Regions from separate parts of the Homo sapiens genome. Here region 2 is linked to region 1. The links come from fine-mapping of genetic effects on gene expression. A gene starts in region 1. The other region holds a variant in brackets. All regions are shown on one strand. Distances are from middle to middle. Region 1 holds the start of TACC1 (transforming acidic coiled-coil containing protein 1). Region 2 overlaps TACC1 (transforming acidic coiled-coil containing protein 1).

The links.
Region 2: its variant is fine-mapped to the expression of TACC1 in whole blood (INTERVAL, PIP above 0.99). The same link has a PIP of 0.9 or more in nasal epithelium.

The regions. Positions count from the first base shown.
Region 1 is chr8:38,783,483-38,792,969 of GRCh38, forward strand. It overlaps TACC1 (transforming acidic coiled-coil containing protein 1), which reads left to right and starts at 3,754. Exons shown (of 13, transcript NM_006283.3): 1 at 3,754-4,261; 2 at 5,222-5,337. The coding sequence starts at 4,101. RefSeq lists an enhancer at 3,358-3,437 and a silencer at 3,478-4,017.
Region 2 is chr8:38,823,907-38,833,393 of GRCh38, forward strand. TACC1 (transforming acidic coiled-coil containing protein 1) reads left to right here. Exons shown (of 13, transcript NM_006283.3): 4 at 1,402-1,462; 5 at 3,262-3,469; 6 at 7,219-7,271. Among named protein-coding and RNA genes, the nearest start is that of TACC1, 41 kb to the left of the region's middle. The variant G/A (reference allele first, on the strand shown) is at 4,621.

The DNA of each region.
Region 1 (9,487 bases):
ATGATCTCGGCTCACCGCAATCTCTGCCTCCCCGGTTCAAGTGATTCTCCTGCCTCAGCCTCCCGAGTAGCTGGAATTACAGGCGCCTGCCACCACACCTGGCTATTTTTATATTCTTAGTAGAGATGGAGTTTCACCATGTTGGCCAGGCTGGTCTCATACTCCTGACCTTAAGTGATCTGCCTGCCTTGGCCTCCCAAAGTGTGGGATTGCAGGCATGAGCCACCGCACCCAGCCTGAAAGAGTATTAGCTATGAACATACCCTGACACCTCTCTTTTAAAAAATTAGAAAGGAGCTTCTCTTTATAATTTTCTGTATAAATGCATTGTACACAGTCCTGATTTCGGTGTTTGGGTAGTGGAGGGAAGATTGTAATTCTATAGATGTTTGTAGTCTACAGGTAAAGGATAATTAGGTAAATATCTGATCTTGCAAGGTTAAGACTGTCATGTTAACATATTTGAATGCGGTCAGATGCTGTTATTGGCAATGTTGTCTTGATTAGACATCATCATGCCCTTGCCTGGTTAGACTGAGGTAGGGCAGAAAAGCAGATAGGGTGGCCACAGCCTCCTGTTGGCAATGGCACGTCTTCACTGACAGGGCTAGAGTGTTCCTAGTTGTGACTTTGCAACCTGTACCAGGTAAGAACGAAGCCAGGACTAGGAGCAGCAGACTGAGAGGAGTGGTCCAGCTAATGGACTCATATTCATTACTGCTTACACTAAGTTCAAGAACTTGCAGAGGAGTGATTTTCAGAAACCTTAGGCATTTATTTGCTAGTCCAGTCTCAAGAAGTTGCTGCAGGCCGGGTGCGGTGGCTCACACCTATAATCCCAGAACTTTGGAAGTGGGTGGATCACCTGAGGTCAGGAGTTCAAGACCAGCCTGGCCAACATGATGAAACCCCGTCTCTACTAAAAAATAAAAAAATTAGCTGGGCATGGTGGCAGGAACCTGTAATCCCAGCTACTTGGGAGGCTGAGGCAGGGAGAATCGCTTGAACCCAGGAGGCGGAGGTTGCAGTCAGCTGAGACTGCACCACCGTGCTCCAGCCTGGGTGACAGAGTGAGACTCCATCTCAAAAAAAAAAAAAAGTAAATTGCTGCATAGGTGAGGCTTAATCTTACTGGGGCCATCACTTGGTCCTGGGTTCTGTTATTTTCTGGCCCAGAAACTAGATTTCCCCAGGGGGAGTCAGGCTTTAGGAATTTATGTCACCTTAGCCAAACTCACAAGGACTATTTGTAAACTAGAATGTTTGTTTTTTCTTACATATATATTGAACACCTACTGAGTGTGTGGTTCTGTCCTAATTTCTGGAGGAAGTCCCAAAGGGGGGTAAAGTCCCTTTAGAAGCTTGTGGGACAGATATGTAAATAAATATGTTATATATGGTGTGCTAAGTGTAGAATGGCCTTACATCCTGGTCTTCTGGAGACAGTCCTGGTTTATGCCTATAGTCCCTGTGTAACTATTAAGAATGCTGTCTTTCACTTTCAGATCTAAGGCCACAGGAAGTGTTCTTTATGGATGTTCGGGGTATAGAAATGATAGAAAGGAAGGACAATGAGCCTGCTTCCCCCTGTAGACACTTGAGCTAAGTGCTGAAGGACGTTCGAGCAGCTGAAGCCTGGGAACTTGGGGTGGGCTGGGGTGGGGGAGGAGGTGTGTTCCAGGAATTCGCAAAGCTCCCTCTGCAGGCAAAGGGAGACTGTTCCCGAAGCAGTAAGCAGTTGGTTCAAGCTAGGCACTGTTTCCCAAATTTACCCTGTGATAACAGTTCCCCAGGACACTTAGTGAACACACAGATTTCCAGACTCTGCTGGCAATTTGGATTTTTTTAAGAAGGCTGGCGGATGATTCTTGGGCATATTAAAGATTGACAACGAGTTCTCTACTCACTGTGGCTAGGAATACAAAAGGATGGGCATAGAGGGGAATGGGAACCGAAAGATTAGAGCACGAGTCACTGATCAGCCAGGCAGGGGTGACCTCAGGCAAGAAAACCTTCAGAGGTAAAACCAGGTGGGAGTTATTTACAGTAGATCATGAAAGATGGGGAGTGCGGGAACTATGTCAGTCACCACAGGGATGCAAAGGAATGAAAAGATAAGAGAACTATTCAGGAGGAAGAACAGGTCCTAGTGTATGCTAGTTACTGATTTGCTGGGGTAATATTATTTCCCAGAAACAGAACCCTGTGTCAAATCCAGGAGCCTGGGGGACTGTAGAACCTGAAGTTTTACTGGGTAAGCATAAACCTAAAACTACAACAGTTGGATAAGTGGTGTGATATATTTCACATGGACCTCCTGCCTAGTTCACTTCTTTATAGTCGCTAGAACACTCATGACAATTTATTTCTGGGAAGAAGCCAGGATGAATTCGAAAGCATCCTGACACCCCACCCCTTTCTTTTCTCTAGACTTCAGGTTAACTCCTGCCCTTCGGTTTTGGTAAAACTACCCTGCCAAGCCTTATCTTGTATTTTGCTCCTGTTTTTGTTATCAAATGTGTAAAACAGTCACGATGAATATACATGCCAACTGCTTTCAGAGGCAACGGTTAGTCTCTTGCAAGTTTCAACGTGCACATTTTGGAGCTGCTGTCTCTGTGGGAACCTGCAGGCACCTCATGGATGCACCACAACTCGGAAATTACAGTACCACCTGGAACACCTTATCCAGGCAAGGAGATCATTAAGCCTGGTGTTTGAGGCAATCGATTCACTTGGAAGAAGGTGCTTTGGTGGTTTTGAGAGGAACAATCCCTACATGAAATCCCTCCATGGGAAATGGAGAACATCAGCTATTTCCCATTGCCTTCAAACCTAAAGATGTCGCCAGGCCTCTTGGCTTGTTACTGAAGCAGCGAAATAAGTCAGAAATCAAAGACTTAGAAGTTACGAAAAGAAAATCTCAAAAAGGAGAATGGGGTCAGGCGCGGTGTCAGGCCTGGAATCCTAGCATTTTGGGAGGCAGAGGCGGGAGGATCGCTTGTGGCCAAGAGTTCAAGACCAGCCTGGGCAACATATCGAGACGCCTGTCTGTATTTTAAATAAATAAATATGGAGAATGGGAAACCCATCAGGCTGTAATCTCACAGGGAATTTAGTACCCTTTACCTAAGACAAGACCTGGGCACTTGGGAAGCCTCCCCGAGTGCGGTTTGGGGAGGGGGAGGGCATCTTAAATTCCAGTCCTCGGTCACTCTTGTGGCTTTGCCAAGGGATTTTCAAATCCCGGGAATGCCAGGGATGGAGATGAACAGGCTGAAATCCCCCACGCTGCCAGGGTTAGGGAGGGGAAAACAACAGTCCACAGCGGCCGCGAAGGTTTGTATTTTTTTTTTTTTGGTAACAAGGGGCTTGTGTGCAGTCCAATATCACCATCGCCGTGAAGTCACAGTGGCAAGATGAAAATGTTTAAAAAAATTTTAAAAAGGAATAAGGAAAGAGGAAGAGGACAGCGTGCCCCGGCTCAGAAAACGGTCCTCCTCTGCCCCGGACGCCGGCGGACCTGTGGGGTATGACCGAATCTCCCCGCGCAGCCGGCAAGCCCCGGCCCTCAGTCGGGCCGCGACCAGCGTGACGCCGCGGTAGGGGGATCCGGCGGGCGCGCGGCCGTCTTCAAAGCCCCGGCGCCGCCGCCGCCCCCGCGCGCGCGCGCGAGTAGTACGGTCCGAGGGGGCGGCTTCTGGGGCGCGGCTCCGGCGGCAGCTGATGCGCGCCCCGCCGGCCGGGAGGCGGGAGTCCGCGAGCCGGGAGCGGGAGCAGCAGAGGTCTAGCAGCCGGGCGCCGCGGGCCGGGGGCCTGAGGAGGCCACAGGACGGGCGTCTTCCCGGCTAGTGGAGCCCGGCGCGGGGCCCGCTGCGGCCGCACCGTGAGGGGAGGAGGCCGAGGAGGACGCAGCGCCGGCTGCCGGCGGGAGGAAGCGCTCCACCAGGGCCCCCGACGGCACTCGTTTAACCACATCCGCGCCTCTGCTGGAAACGCTTGCTGGCGCCTGTCACCGGTTCCCTCCATTTTGAAAGGGAAAAAGGCTCTCCCCACCCATTCCCCTGCCCCTAGGAGCTGGAGCCGGAGGAGCCGCGCTCATGGCGTTCAGCCCGTGGCAGATCCTGTCCCCCGTGCAGTGGGCGAAATGGACGTGGTCTGCGGTACGCGGCGGGGCCGCCGGCGAGGACGAGGCTGGCGGGCCCGAGGGCGACCCCGAGGAGGAGGATTCGCAAGCCGAGACCAAATCCTTGAGTTTCAGGCAAGTACACGGCGTCCCCGCTGAGATGCAGACGCGCTTGCCTCCATCCATCTGCGACTCCCTCTGTGTGCGTGTGTGTGGTCGCCACCCGCGAAACCGTCCTCACGGCCGTGCCGCGTCCCTGCCCGGAGCCGGGTCCCCGTGTGCGTCCGAAAGTTCAGGATCTTCTGTCCTCCCGTGGGGTTTCTGGCCCCCGTTTCGCTAGGAGAGTTCCGCACCCAACCCAGAATCTGCAGTCTCTCCGCATCCCCGCTGGCCTCGGTCACTTTCTCTAAGCTTCGACCCCCAGCCCCCGCCCCTCCACACTGGAGCAACGTCACTGATCTAACCCAGTGCAACTTAGGGCCCCCCCGTGGGGAAGAAGTCGCTCCCCGGCCCTTCCCGGGGCCCTACCGTGTACCCAAAACGCAGCCGCGGTGAAGAAGGTCGCGTGATGACAGGCCCCTGGCAGCTGCTGGGAAATGGTGGTCTCTGCCGGGCTGTCATCCGCGTGATTGCGGAAGGCAGGTGACACCATTCTTAGCCTCGGGCCCAGGGAGTTCCAGCAGGTAGAGGCCTACCGAGCAAAGAGGAATGCCTAGCATCGGCCTAACTCGGGGGTGGGACCAGTATTAATTGTTAAAGCCTCTGGGAAAGGGCTCTTGTGACAAAAGGAGTCTGTTGGAAAAGCGCATTTTTCAGGTGTCTGAGGGAAGGATGACCTCGAAAATAAATGGTGCTGGAGAAAAGCTCCAGGGAATGGAGGAGCTTTCAGAGAGACAGGATGCCAGCCTGAGAAACCCAAGGAGGGCACTGCTCAGAGACCGCAGTTGCCTCCCGCAGGTCAGACCCTGCTGAGGACCGGTTGGTTGTGAAGTTAGACAAAAGTGCTGGACTTTTAGCCTCTGTGAATATGTAGATTTCAAAGGGTGTCGGAAATACCGTTGAAAGTGGTAATTCCTCATTTTTCCTCCTTGGCAGCTCGGATTCTGAAGGTAATTTTGAGACTCCTGAAGCTGAAACCCCGATCCGATCACCTTTCAAGGAGTCCTGTGATCCATCACTCGGATTGGCAGGACCTGGGGCCAAAAGCCAAGGTAAAGAAAAACTTGCATTTTTCCTGCCTGTTTTGTTTCAAAAGTTTTGAAAAATATCAATGAAGGAAGGAAAAAAGTGTAAATTTAGGACCATTTAAGAGAGTTTGACTAAGAAAGAGCTGTTTGAAACCTCCTGGCTTATGTATTTTTAGGGGTGTGGTGATCGAGGCTTTCTCCTCTGAGTAGAGTTTGTGCATTTGCAGTATAAGATTATCATTATCAAACATTCCTACTAGGCCTTTCTCCTCAGCCCCTAAAAAAATATGTATAGTAATGAAGTAGGAAGATCATGTTTATATTTGACTTCACAAATTCCTCAGGCTAAGTTGCTTTCTACTGGGGTGTGGCTGGAGACAAAAATTACAGGTAAGACTTGACTTAATTTTTGATAGGGAGGTTCTTAAGAGGCTTTTTCGGAATCACTCACCTCGCCCACTTCCATGCAGGGATGTGGTGAGAGCCCTTCAGTCTACTTAGGAAAACCTGGCACATGGATTCCCTCCCAGCCCCTCAGAGCCCAGCCCTTCATCTGCAGGAGCTTCCGTTGTCTCACTTAATTAGTAGAAACCTTTTTTGTCACACAGCCAGTTCAGAATAAAATTTCACCTATCCCAACAGAATTCATATGCTTATTTACTAAATAGAGTGCACTGTGATTCAGCAGTGAAGTCCTGCTCTCTCGAGCTAACATTGTGGAGGGAGAACCTGTGAAGGGTTAAGCAAAATATCTATGTCAGCTTGTGTGAAGCACTGTGGAGAAAAATAAAGCAGGGGAAGAGAATAGGGAATATGGAGTGGGGATAGGGAAGGCTGAAGGGGAGTTAGTGGGGGCATTCATGATTAGGTGACTTGAACAGAGACCTGAAGGCAGATTGAGGGAGCAGGCCTTGGAGGTTCCTGAGGTGGGAACCCTTCCAGCAGAAGGAGTGGCATCTGCAAAGGTCTGACAGCACCAGCCTGCTGCAGGGAGGCCGTAAGGTGGAGGGTTCATGGTACAGTTTGAGGACCAGCCAGGAGGTCAGTGTGGACTGACTACTCAGAGAGCAGGAGGAGCTGAAGTCAGCGTGGTCAGAGGAGGTCCAGATGCTGCTGCAGTGAGGATTTGGTTTTCAGTAAGGTGGAAAGCCACTGGAGGGCATATGCATTTCCAAGGGCTGCCATAACAGAGTAACTTAGCGGCTTACAATAACAGAAATTATTCTCTCACAGTCCTGGATAATTGAAATCAGAACCAGAAGTCTCAAGTCAAGGTGTTGGCAGGGCCTTGCTCTTCTGAAGGCTCCAGGAAGTCTGTCCTTGCCTCTTCTAGCCTCTGCTGGGTGTCTGCAATCCTTTGTGTTCTTTGGCTTGTGGCAGCAGAACTCCAGTCTCTGTCTCAACACATGGCCATCTTCTCCCTATGTATCTGTCTTACCGTGCCCTTCCTGTGAGGACACCAGTCGTTGAAGTTAGGGCCCACCCTAATCCAGTTTGACCTCATCTTAACTTGGTAACATCTTCAGAGATACTATTTCTAGATAAGGTCACATTCATAGGTACTAGGAGTTGGGACTTTAACATATCATTTTGAGAGACATAATTCAGCCCACAACAGAGAGCTTTGAACAGAGGGATTGTGATTCAGCTTCTTTTGTAAAAGGCTCCCTGGGCTGCTGTGTGGAGAAGGGACTCTAGGATGGAAGTCCTTTTTATGTGGTTTCTCTGTTCCAGTATCTGGCACTGTCACCCTGAAGTGGCAGCGCCAGCTTTCAGTTATCTAGCTACCTAAACTTTGTGCTGATTGTGACTTTCTCCTCTCCCTAATAAGTATTTTTATTGCTTAGCAACTTCTTCGTAGGTTGCCTAGGGAAGTCAAGTTACTCTGGTAATAGACTGCATGATGGAGCTGGAATTATTGGTAAAATGACATCAGCAAAAAGCTGATTTGGTTTTGCTTTAAATTGATAGCTCCATGCTGTGCTTACCCAGCTGAGAATTCAGCAATACCCTCAACTTGCCCTAGGCTGCATTTTGCCATTGTTCTAGGCAGGGACAACATGGGAATAGGCAAGCTTATATACTGGAGAATTTGTGTGCGACGCATAGCTGTGTAGCACTCTCAGTGATGAAGATAACACTTATTCCTCATAGCTTCCCTTTTCTTCCGTAAAGATTGGCAGATCAGAAGGGAGATTTTGAAGCTTGAAAGAACTATTTGGTGGCCTTTCCATCAAATTTAAATAAAGCTCATAAGACACATGTTAAGGAGCTGTTTGAAAGCCTTTTTGAATTGCCATCAGCTTGGGCGGCCCTTCCTCATCGTTTTGTCAGCTGCTAGACTGATTCATCCCGCCAGATTCTTTGCCAATTGAATAGAGGCCTGGATGACCTAGGCCCCCAAAACCACAGAGACCCAATTGTTTGGTCCTTCCTGTACCAGTGACTCTCACATTTTTTTCATTCTCTCTAAAAGGAAAACTTTTAAATGTTTATGGATCATGAAGGCTCTATGGGGTAGTTCATGAATGCAGACTGTAATTGTAGGGGTAGAGGAGTGTCCAGTCCAGGAAACAACCCTGCATATTATGAAGGCTTTCAGTTTAGGGTCTTTAAACAATAGGATGATTGCTCATCAACCTGGTCGTACCCTGACTTCCAGGGTCCTTGGGTGCAACATCCGGAGCTAGTCCAGAGTACCGCCAATGGCCTTGTCACACATACACAGCAAATGTGCAAAGACAGCCAGAGCACAGGTCTGCCTGGAGAGGATTTCAGTGGGCAGAAAGCCCTTCAGAGTCATTTCATATTGAAGTTTAATTTCTGGGACTGGATAAGTTCCCTTTCTCCCAAAATTATTGATTGTTTTGTTCCTGGTAAAGATAGTCTTTCATACTTTTGTGGTTCCAAGACATGGTTGGACCGCAGTTATAAATTATATAAGACTAAATCATTCTGGAAGAATGATTTACGAGGAGTTAGTCAGGAGTTGGAGTTGAAATATGTAAACATTCTGGCTTCCTGGTACATAATGGCCCTCAAACGTGTGGGCTACATTTACCATACCCATGGCTCCTGTGCTGACTTCTGTATAGTTCTTTGAACTCAGGGAAACATCTAAGACTATTTTGAAATGACTTTTCTTATACTGGAACTGCTTTAGGAACTTGCAGTATCTAAACTCTATAATGACTCTTCCTAAGAGTTGTATGCCAGGAGTTAAGTGGCGGATAAGGTTGTAGATTTTTTTTGAAGCCACATATAGAAGCAGGTTTTAGGCTTACTGGTAAAATAAAACTCTAGCTAAAGATATTTCCTGGAAATAACCAGACTGGTAGCTGTAAAGCTTGGGCTGGTCTGTATTTGCTATCTGTCTGTTTTCTCCCACTAAAGTTGTTTAATGCTGCTGCTGTTGTGGTGGTCTTTCTCTTTGCTGGGAAATATATTGGTGAAGAAACATCCTCTAGGAATGGACTTTTGAGGAGGTACAATCTCAAGTTCATCCTCTGTTTTGTTTTGCTTTGAGACAGGATCTATGTCTAGACTGGAGTGCAGTAGTATGATCATAGCTTACTGCAGCCTCCAACTCCTGGGCTCAGATGATCCTCCTGCCTCAGCCTCCTGAGTAGCTGGGACTATAGGCACACACTACCATGCCTGGCTAATTTTTTGTTTTGTTTTGTTTTTTGAGATAGAGTCTCGCTCTGTTGCCCTGGCTGAAATGCAGTGGTGCGATCTCGGCTCACTGCAAGCTCCGCCTCCTGGGTTCACGCCATTCTTCTGCCTCAGCCTCCCAAGTAGCTAGGACCACAGGCGCCCACCACTACGCCCAGCTAATTTTTTGTATTTTTAGTAGAGACGGGGTTTCACCGTGTTAGCCAGGATGGTCTCGATCTCCTGACCTCGTGATCCGCCCGCCTTGGCCTCCCAAAGTGCTGGGATTACAGGCGTGAGCCACCACGCCTGGCCAGTTTTTTTATTTTTTGTAGAGATAGGGTCTTGCTATGTTGCCTAGGCTGATCTCGAACTCCTGGCCTAAAGGGATTCTCCTGCCTCACCCTCCCAAAGTCCTGGGATTACAGGCGTGAGCTACCATGCCTGGCTTTTGTGTTTGCATGTGTGTTTATGGAGGACTTAGGGGTTGTGGCTTTGTGTAGCTGTTTCAGTCACAAAA
Region 2 (9,487 bases), 40 kb after region 1:
AGAGTTGAATATTCCAGTCTTTACATGATTTTTTTCTCCATCTGTCTGTCTCTTTCCTGTCTCTAATTTTGTTGGTGCATCAGGACTACTGAACAAGTGAAATTTCTCTGTTTTCTGTTGTAAGTACTCCTGCTGTTTCTTTAGTCCCTGGGACCGTTGGCAGTTTCCTCTCTCCCCTCCCCCAGCCATCTCTCCATAGCATGTTTGCTTCTAATTCTGAGTTTGATCTTCTGATGATTTTTTTGCATTTCATCAGTCACTTCATGAGTCAGCTTAGCCTTGCAGTTGTCCATACCTAAGGGAGTGGGGCTTGGCCTTTACACCTTAGGTGCTAGAGCTTGCACTCCCTGGCTTGGCAGGTGTCACGTGGCGCTTTGACAATACCAAAAGCTGGCTTGGCCCCAAGATCATCACAGCAGTGGTTTGAGGGACTGTTCTGCTATTTAATATTGGAAATCATTGGCTTTTTTGGTAGCATAAAGCTACTGGCTTGGAACAGTTAATAAATTTTACTGAGTCAGCTCAACTTGAGTTTGGTGGCAGAGGGTAGCACTCAGTAAGAAGATTAGGGAAAGAAGATCATGAACTAGTGATTATGCACATTCCGGTAACTTATGTGCTTGTCTTTGTATTTTTTCTCACAAAAGAAAAAAAGTTGCAAATAATTTTTTCTCTTTTTTTGGTCACAGTGGTGTTTTTCCTGGAAATTCTAAGTTTATTAGAACAGAATCTGAATTAGTCCTGTGATCACAAGTTGTGTGCTAATCTACAAATAACAGATGGTTCAAGCTTCCCCAGTTTCAGGCTTTGTGCAGCGTGTGACATTCATCTTCCATCTTACTACTTAATAGGAATGGTAACAGTTTACTCACATATTTTTACTTTTATACTTTTTATTGATGACAGTTCTTCTCTGTGAGCACACAAGTCTAACTGGAACTGTTTTATGAGACGTCTATGGCTTTTAGTGCAATAAAGAATTTTTAAAGAATTTGGTCCAGCGTGATGATTTTTCTAATGAATGTCAAAGCCAAGCGAGTGAGGCTCAGAGGAACTGAATGTCTCCAGCTGCTAAGGCTCTACTGTCTGCAAAGCTTTTGGTGGCGTGTAATTAAAAACCATAGACATCAGAGTGCTACTGTTTGACAACTCATAGAAGCAAGCTGAGGGGGTCTTTTCAGAGAATGAGCCCCGCTTGTAGGTCTTTGCTTACCCCGTCTCTCTGGAGAAAACTCAGAGGCATAAAAGGTGTCCCTGCCTCTCTCCTGCGGCGATGTATGATTTGTGTGGTGCTGTATGCTTTGGCTTCTATCCGCACACACTGCTGTCTGCTCCATTTCATACCTTGACAATTGTCAGTGTGATTGCAAACTGGCTTGTTTGTGTTTCTTCTCTTTCCAGGAGTGGCTGTAAGGTGAAGAAGCATGAAACTCAGTCTCTCGCCCTGGATGCATGTTCTCGGGTGAGTCTGTGCCCATCTCCAGAATGTCTCTGAGACCAGGGGTCCTCCAGTGGGAGTTTGCATCCCCCTGGCGGGTGGTTCAAAAGGACTTTCCAATGGGTACCTGAGTACTCAGCTTTAAGAAGCCAATTTCCAGATCCTTACTGTCCCTGAAGAGAAGGCCCCTGAAGACAAGGGAACCCTTTCACAATGACTCTTTTTTTTTTTTGGTAAAATTCCCACTTTAAATGCTACAAAGATGCATCACCACAGGGTGTGAAAGTCTCCAGGGCACCGAAGGGAAGATCTGAAATACTGGTGTAGGTTCTAATAAGATAATTGACTCTAATAACTGGATGGTATTTTTCTTAAGTCAGATGGTTTTCTAATTCATTGCTTTCAACAATAGAGGAAAACCTGAGTTGTCAGCTGATAGGTCTAAAAATAATGTTTGATGGTAGATTTTTTTGGGCACATAACTTGGAAAGGGGTTCAAAGAATTGAAAGGCACTTATGTTACAGAACTACTTTCTGTTTCATCTATTGTTTATATAAATAAGGTTTCTTAATGATTATATTGATAAAAATAGAAACCAGGAATAAAATTGATGTTGACCTTTGTTACATTCTAGCAATAAATAATATCCATCCATGACCGTATAAACTAATTGCAAAACAAAGCGAAGCCCAGGCCCATCTGATTGCAATGAGATCCTTTTGTTCTTTTTAAAACTTTCTCAGTATACTTATTACAGAAATACATTCATTGGTTAATAGAGTTCAATTTAACATAACTTTTCCTCTACAATTTGGATCAGAAACTTGGTATATGGTGTAAGATGTAAAAAAGGGGTGTGATGGGGGAAATTTACAATCTGAGTTATTTTTCATCTGTTAACAAATGTGTAACATTCTCCCTCAGATTTTGCTAAAGTAGGCAGCAAGAACTATGAGAAATTTATCTTTGGTTTTCTTTAAAAAACAAAAACAAAAACCCAAAACCCATATATTTAGTGCACTGTAAAAGTTTTTAAGAATTAGTGCAATAAAACATTTTGTAATTGATATAACAACTTACTTTTGTGTCTGATAATACTTATCAAAACTTGCAATATTTTGAAAATAAGTTGTGCATTAATAAATGTGATAAGTCTCCAGCAGAAAAAATTTTAAGACTTAAAGAAAAAAGTTTCACAGAGACATTGGATAGAGACTTTTAAAAAGACTTTCAACCATGCAGATGTTTTTCATTTGGATAGTTTCTTGATGGAAGTGGGATGGAAATACAGATTTAGAGAGGAAAAGGAATAACATAAATTTCTGACTTATTCAGGAACTTGTTCATTTAAATTTACATATGGTATCAAATCACTAAGGTAACTAGATAGCATTAAGTAAATTCAATATTTAGAATATTCCAGATATTACATTCTTTGCAATTATTTAAACTTATGCCAAAAAGTTTTTAGATGTCACTTGAAAATGCAATGGGGGACATAGATTTTCAAAAAAAAATTAGGTATATGAGCAAAAAAATTGAAAACCATTGTCTTAAACCACTGAAACTGCTTGCTTATAAACTTAACCTAGAGAAGATCATTTTTTAAAACCTCAGACTCAAGTTACAGAAACTAGGTTCTATAAAACAGCATCTCACAATTGAAAGACTCCAACTTCCTCCTTGCTTTGTACCCAGGTCTGTGGTTAACCTCTCACATATCTGTATGGAGTTGTGTCTACTTTGTTCCATTCATGGGATGTCACTTTTCCCCATTGCTTGCCCTCCTAAAGGGTAGCATCTTCTCTGTTGTGTTTCTCAGGATGAAGGGGCAGTGATCTCCCAGATTTCAGACATTTCTAATAGGGATGGCCATGCTACTGATGAGGAGAAACTGGCATCCACGTCATGTGGTCAGAAATCAGCTGGTGCCGAGGTGAAAGGTGAGCCAGAGGAAGACCTGGAGTACTTTGAATGTTCCAATGTTCCTGTGTCTACCATAAATCATGCGTTTTCATCCTCAGAAGCAGGTATGGAAGCATATCTTCATCTTTCTAATGTACATAAGCATGGAAATGCCTGAAAGCCTAATAAAGCAGGAGGAGCCTTACAGAGATTAAAGAATTGGGTCACTTGAAGGATAGATTTAGGATGCTGACCTATGCTTTGCTTCTTTACCTGGAAAAGGGACACAAAGTGCTTATTGAAGTACTAGGAACGTAGAGATACTTGTGACAAGTTGTATAGGAGATGCTGATGTATGTGAGACTGCTTGAATTTCTTTATAATTTTATGTGAATATGGCCATATCTTAAAGTATAGTGGTGTGTTAGTTCATTTGCGTTGCTGTAAAGGAATACCTGAGAATGGCTAATTTATAGGAAAAAGAGGTTTATTTGGTTCATGGTTCTGCAGACTGTAGAATAAGCATGGCACCAGTGCCTGCTTCTGGTGAGGGACTCAGGAAGCTTCCAATCATGGTGGAAGGCAAGGGGGAGCAAGTGTGTCACATGGCGAGAGGTGGGAGGAAGAGGGGGCGGGGAGGATGCCAGGCTATTTTTAACAAAGATTTCACAGAAACTAACAGCAAGAAGTCGCTCATTACCACAAGGAGGGCACCAAGCTATTCATGAGGGATCCGCTCCTATGACCCAGCCACCTCCCATTAGGCCTCACTTCCAACTGTTGATCAGGTTTCAACATGAGATTTAGGGGGCAAATATTTAAACTATATCAAATGGCCTATAAATATGTCATATGTTTGACTTTTTTGTGATTGTTATACTCATTGTTTAACTTAGAGAAATAACAACTGACATGTATGGTGCCTTACCATGTACAGGCATTGTTTTAAGTGCTTTGCATATACTCATTCATAGCAAGGTGTTACCCTTTTCTCACTTCTTCAGAGAAACAAAGTAAGTCAAAGAAGTTAAGTGACTTGATTAAAGTCACTTGGCTAGGGTAGGACAGAAAAGTGGTATCTTTTTCCTCACCACAAGGTTCATGGCTGAGACATCTCTAACAAAAGATCAACAAGAGAAAAGTGTACAAATATATTTAATATAAGTTTTACATGACATTAGAGCCTCCAGAAATGAAGACCCAAAGGAACAGGGAAAACTGTACTTTTATAGATAGTTGTGCAGAAGTATAATTGGAGGACAGAAGGGTGTGATCT[G/A]TGGTAATAAACCAGGGGAACTTAGCAAGTCCTGTTTGTTCCAATTCCTCTTGGTGTCTGTGTCTTTCAGGATAAGGACATTGTTTTTCTCTGTGTACAGGGAGGACCCCTCTTGTAATGAGGTCTTATGAACTATTTTCAGGGGAAGGTCTGAGGGGTTGCTTTATGGCCTGCTTCAGGAAAGGGGGCAGGAGAGGGGCCGAGAGACCTCCCTGCTTCTGCTGTGTCCTCAAATGCGAAGGCACCATATTTTGGTGAAGTGTGTTCTGAACCTCATCATTAGTAAATGGTAGAACTACATTTGACTCTAAGCAGTCTGGTTCCATGGTCTTTTCGCCACAATGCCAAAGTATGAAGAGATTATTTTCATGATACTAGGCTACTGTAAATTTTCCTGGTACAGATGTGGTAAGTTGAGATTGACCAGTGCACTGTAAAATCTTTCTTAACATGCCAATGAGGAACCTGGGCTAACCAGGGTGGAAGCCTCTTATTGATGGACTCATCAGATCATTCTAGAGCTAAGCCCCTCTTTCTTGGGACCCCAGTTACATCCTTGGCCTTAAACTTTACTTATGAAAAGTTTAGAACCATGTTCCTGACTACATTAAACATTATTAAAAACTCAGATCTTCTTAACATAATTTTATTCATGGGCTTTTATGTATAGAATTTTAAAAGTCATGATCTGCCATTAAGCCAGGGAAGCAGATGGAAAGTCAGGACTTGGAGCAATTTATTCCCCCTGGCCTCCTTCTCATCCCAGGCCTCAGTCTCTCATCTATAAAATAATATGCCAGGCATTGTTCCTGATTTCTTCCAATACTGTCTTCTGCCCTGACATCTTTCCCAAAGATATTGTTCACCATTCCCCCAGTTTCTTGGGGTTAATCCTGAGTATTCTTAACACCTGCCTTGGTTTTTTTCCATCTGAAGTGTCTTCCTTTGCTGCCTCTTACACAGATCTGCACATCCCTTCAGGTCTCTCCAGCATGCTTTTGCTCCCACATTTCCTTTCCCCCTTCCTGTTCCACAGTACCTAGCGCAGTGTGTTAATTACAGGAAGGTAATATTATAAACTTACTGAGGTTAGAGACTACCACTCATCTTTGAGTCACCTTTGACACAGTACATGGTAAACATTTATTGAATTATATTCTTCCTCACTAGAGGAAATTCCTTCAATAAAAATTTATGTAGAGAGCTGGGGCCCTGTACATACAGTGCTGTCTTCAAAGTTAGCAAACAGCAAGGGGAACATATTTAAACAAGTGGTTACATTGTAACTGATCAGCCGCATCACAAGCAAGTGGAGGCTGCGGTCCTGGGTGTGGGAATGGCTACAGGCCCTGTTAGGTGAATCCTGACTGTGTCCTGGTGAGTGTCCCCTTGAAGCTGGGTCCTGATGGATACTTACTAGATGTTCTCCAGGAAATGAGATTTTCACACAGCCATGGGAAGAAAGCTGCCACGTTGGTAAAAGGCCTGGTTGCTTTCTGTAAGTATCTGGCCAAGTGGGAAACAAGGTCATACCGTGGAATCTGGGCTTGATCCTATAGGTAGGGAGGGGGAGGTTGAAGGTTTTTGAATAAGGGAGTGATGGTCACATTTGTGTTTTAAATAATTAGCTATTGACAACAATAGTAGTTAGTGATTGCCATGTGGAGGATTGTAACTTTAAACTTTTGTATGCTTTTCTGTATTTTTATGTTTACTTTAATGAGTGCATCTTCTGGTTATTTTATTTTTTATTTTTCTTATTTTTGAGACTGAGTTTCGCTCTTGTTGCCCAGGCTGGAGTGTGGTGGCGCTATCTCAACTCACTGCAACCTCCAGCTCCCGGGTTCAAGCGATTCTCCTGCTTCAGCCTCCCAAGTAGCTGAGATTATAGGCATGCGCCACCACGCCCAGCTAATTTTTGTATTTTTAGTAGATGAGGCTTCGCCATGTTGGCTAGGCTGGTCTCCTGACCTCAGATGATCCACCCACCTTGGCCTCCCAAAGTGCTGGGATTACAGGCATGAGCCACTGTGCCCAGCCATCTTCTGGTTATTTTAAATGTCATCCTCTACCCTAGTAGAGTAGAGGATAGACCTGAGACAAGGAAGCCCATTTGAAGGGGTGGAGGGGAGAATGAGTTTAGTTTCGCTGCCTTGAATTTTAAAGCTTATTATCTTATCTGCTGCATTAATTAGATCAAGGCCACCCTTCTGGGCTGGAATTTAAATTCACTCCGACTTGATGATTAAAAAAAAGCATTCAGTGTTACACAGTGTCCCCTTTCTGAAATAATGCCACAGTTAGTACGACACATTTTTCCAAACTTTTAATGGACACAAGGGGGCAGCCTTGCTGTTCTTTCAGCCTGAAGGCTGACGACCTGTTTGTGGCTGACTAACCATGTGCTCCTCTTCTGAATGTCATGGACTTATAACAGCACTCAACAAAATGCCAGCGCTCCTTTTAAATAAAATCTTAAAATGCTTTTCATGTGTTCATAAGTCATTCTCGCCTGCACTGGGGTTTCCAAGAGCCTTTCACTAGGGAGGAAAGGAACCGACTTCTTGGGATAACTATAAAAATGACTTTCTGTCTTAGGCATAGAGAAGGAGACGTGCCAGAAGATGGAAGAAGACGGGTCCACTGTGCTTGTAAGTTCCTGAATGTGGAGGGCCGGGTGGACTCAGGTTTCTTTCAGTATTTGTTTTGAAGCCCATGTGAATTTGTTAAATTCTGGTCAGTGTTAGGTGATGAGGATAAAATGTAAATGAGATAGTTTCTTCACTTGAGGAACACATAGTCTCTGCATTGTAACCCTAGCCGCAGGTAGCTGTGGAGCACTTGAACTGTAGCTACTCAGAAAAAGAAGAAGCATAAATGTCTCAACTTTTTATATTAACTACATGTTGAGATGATAATATTTTGGATGTCTTGGGTTAACTAAGGTTTATTATTATCATTATTATTGTTGTTATTATTATTATTATTTGAGACAGTCTCACTCTGTTCCCCAGGCTGGAGTACAGTGGTGCAATCTTGGCTAACTGCAACCTTCACCTCCTGGGCTCAAGTGATCCTTCTACCACAGCCTCCCAAGTAGCTGGAACTAGAGGCACGTGCCACCGCACCCAGCTAGTTTTTGTATTTTTTGCAGAAATGGGGTCTTGCCATGTTACCTAGGCTGGTCTCAAACTCCTGGGCTCAAGCAATCTGCCCACCTCCGCCTCCCAAAGTGCTGGGATTACAGGCATGAGCCCCTGCACCTGGCTGGTTTACTCAGTTCTTTTTTTTTTTTTTGAGACAGAGTTTCACTCTTGTCACCCAGGTTGGAGTACAGTGACGCAATCTCGGCTCACTACAACCTCCACCTACTGGGTTCAAGCAGTTCTCCTCCCTCAGCCTCCTCAGTAGCTGGGATTACAGGCATGCGCCACCACGCCCAGCTAATTTTTGTATTATTAGTAGAGATGGGGTTTCACCATGTTGGCCAAGCTGGTCTCAAACTCCTGACCTCAGGTGATCCACCTGCCTTGGCCTCCTGAAGTGCTGGGATTACAGGCATGAGCCACTGCGCCCAGCCCATTTACTCAGTTCTTAAACTTTAAACTTCCTAATTCCCAACTGATTCATCCATAAAATGAGTAGCACCCATCTGCCTTATCAAAGTGGTTGTAAGGATAAGATGAAATGACAACGTGAAAGATTTAAGCTGTAAAGTGCTAGAATACACTAGTGTGCTAGAATACACTGTTGTGTTAGAATACACTGGTGTGGTGTTGATAGGAAACACGTGGAAAAGAGAGTGGAAAGGAAGAGAGTGAAAAAGAAAAATGGCAAACACTGTCTCTGAAGCCAGCTGGTGAGGAACATATCATATGCTGTGACCTTTTAAAAGCAACTCCTTTTGAACTTCCCAACATAAATTAATTTCTGCTTCCTTAGAACATTGAATAAACATTGTATAAAGAAATTTCACCATGCAAAACATTGAATGAAAAAATCATCTATTTAATCCATCATTCACTTTTTAAGTTTATCTGTGTTGCTCTGAAGTCCATTCTTATGTGGTCTTGTGCCCAGCAGTAGGTGGTGGCTGGACTAAGGCCAGAGTACAATCAGTGGTAGGAGTCAGTCTCTCCTTGCTTTTCAGCTGTTGTTCCACAGCATTTTTCACGTAAGAAGTTAACTTTTCTTTTTAAGTTTTAAATGTTTTAAAAGGTGAGTTCATTTGGCTTTTTTGGGCACGTCTCTGTTAGAGTACGGCAGGGGCTGATACTGCTCTCTTGTGATTGAGGACAAATGAGCACAGTCAGCACACTGCCACAGATTAGTGATGCGAATTCTCCACAGCCACGGGAATCAGTGGCATCTGTGCTCACTGTAAATTTGCAACCGGGAGTCCATTGAGTTCTGTTGTCTATAGACTGGTCTTTGTTGGTCCTCAATTGTGAATGTTTTGAGGGACTGGGAGAAGCACTGGCAAACATGAAATAAAGCCCTTTTGGAAGGATATGATTGATTGATTTAGCGTCTTCATTAAAGACATATTAGATGGCCCAGGCCTAAAACAGATCTTCTGGCCAATTCTCTGTGATGGTAGATTCTATAACAAGCTTGTCCAACTTGCTTAATTTTGTTGTTGTTGTTCTGATTGGTTTTGTTTTAGGCTTTTAGCAGCCTGAAGCCATAGTTTTTAGTTTCTGTCTCTAGTGATAAGCGGAAAAGAGGGATGAGGAAGGGGCTTTACTGCCCCAACCAGAAACAGAAACTAAGAACCCATGACTGCATTCTCTCCCTTGGACACCCCTGTGAAATGTTCTGCACTTTTTGATAAGCAACTTAAAGGACTAAGGAATGTAAAAAGTTA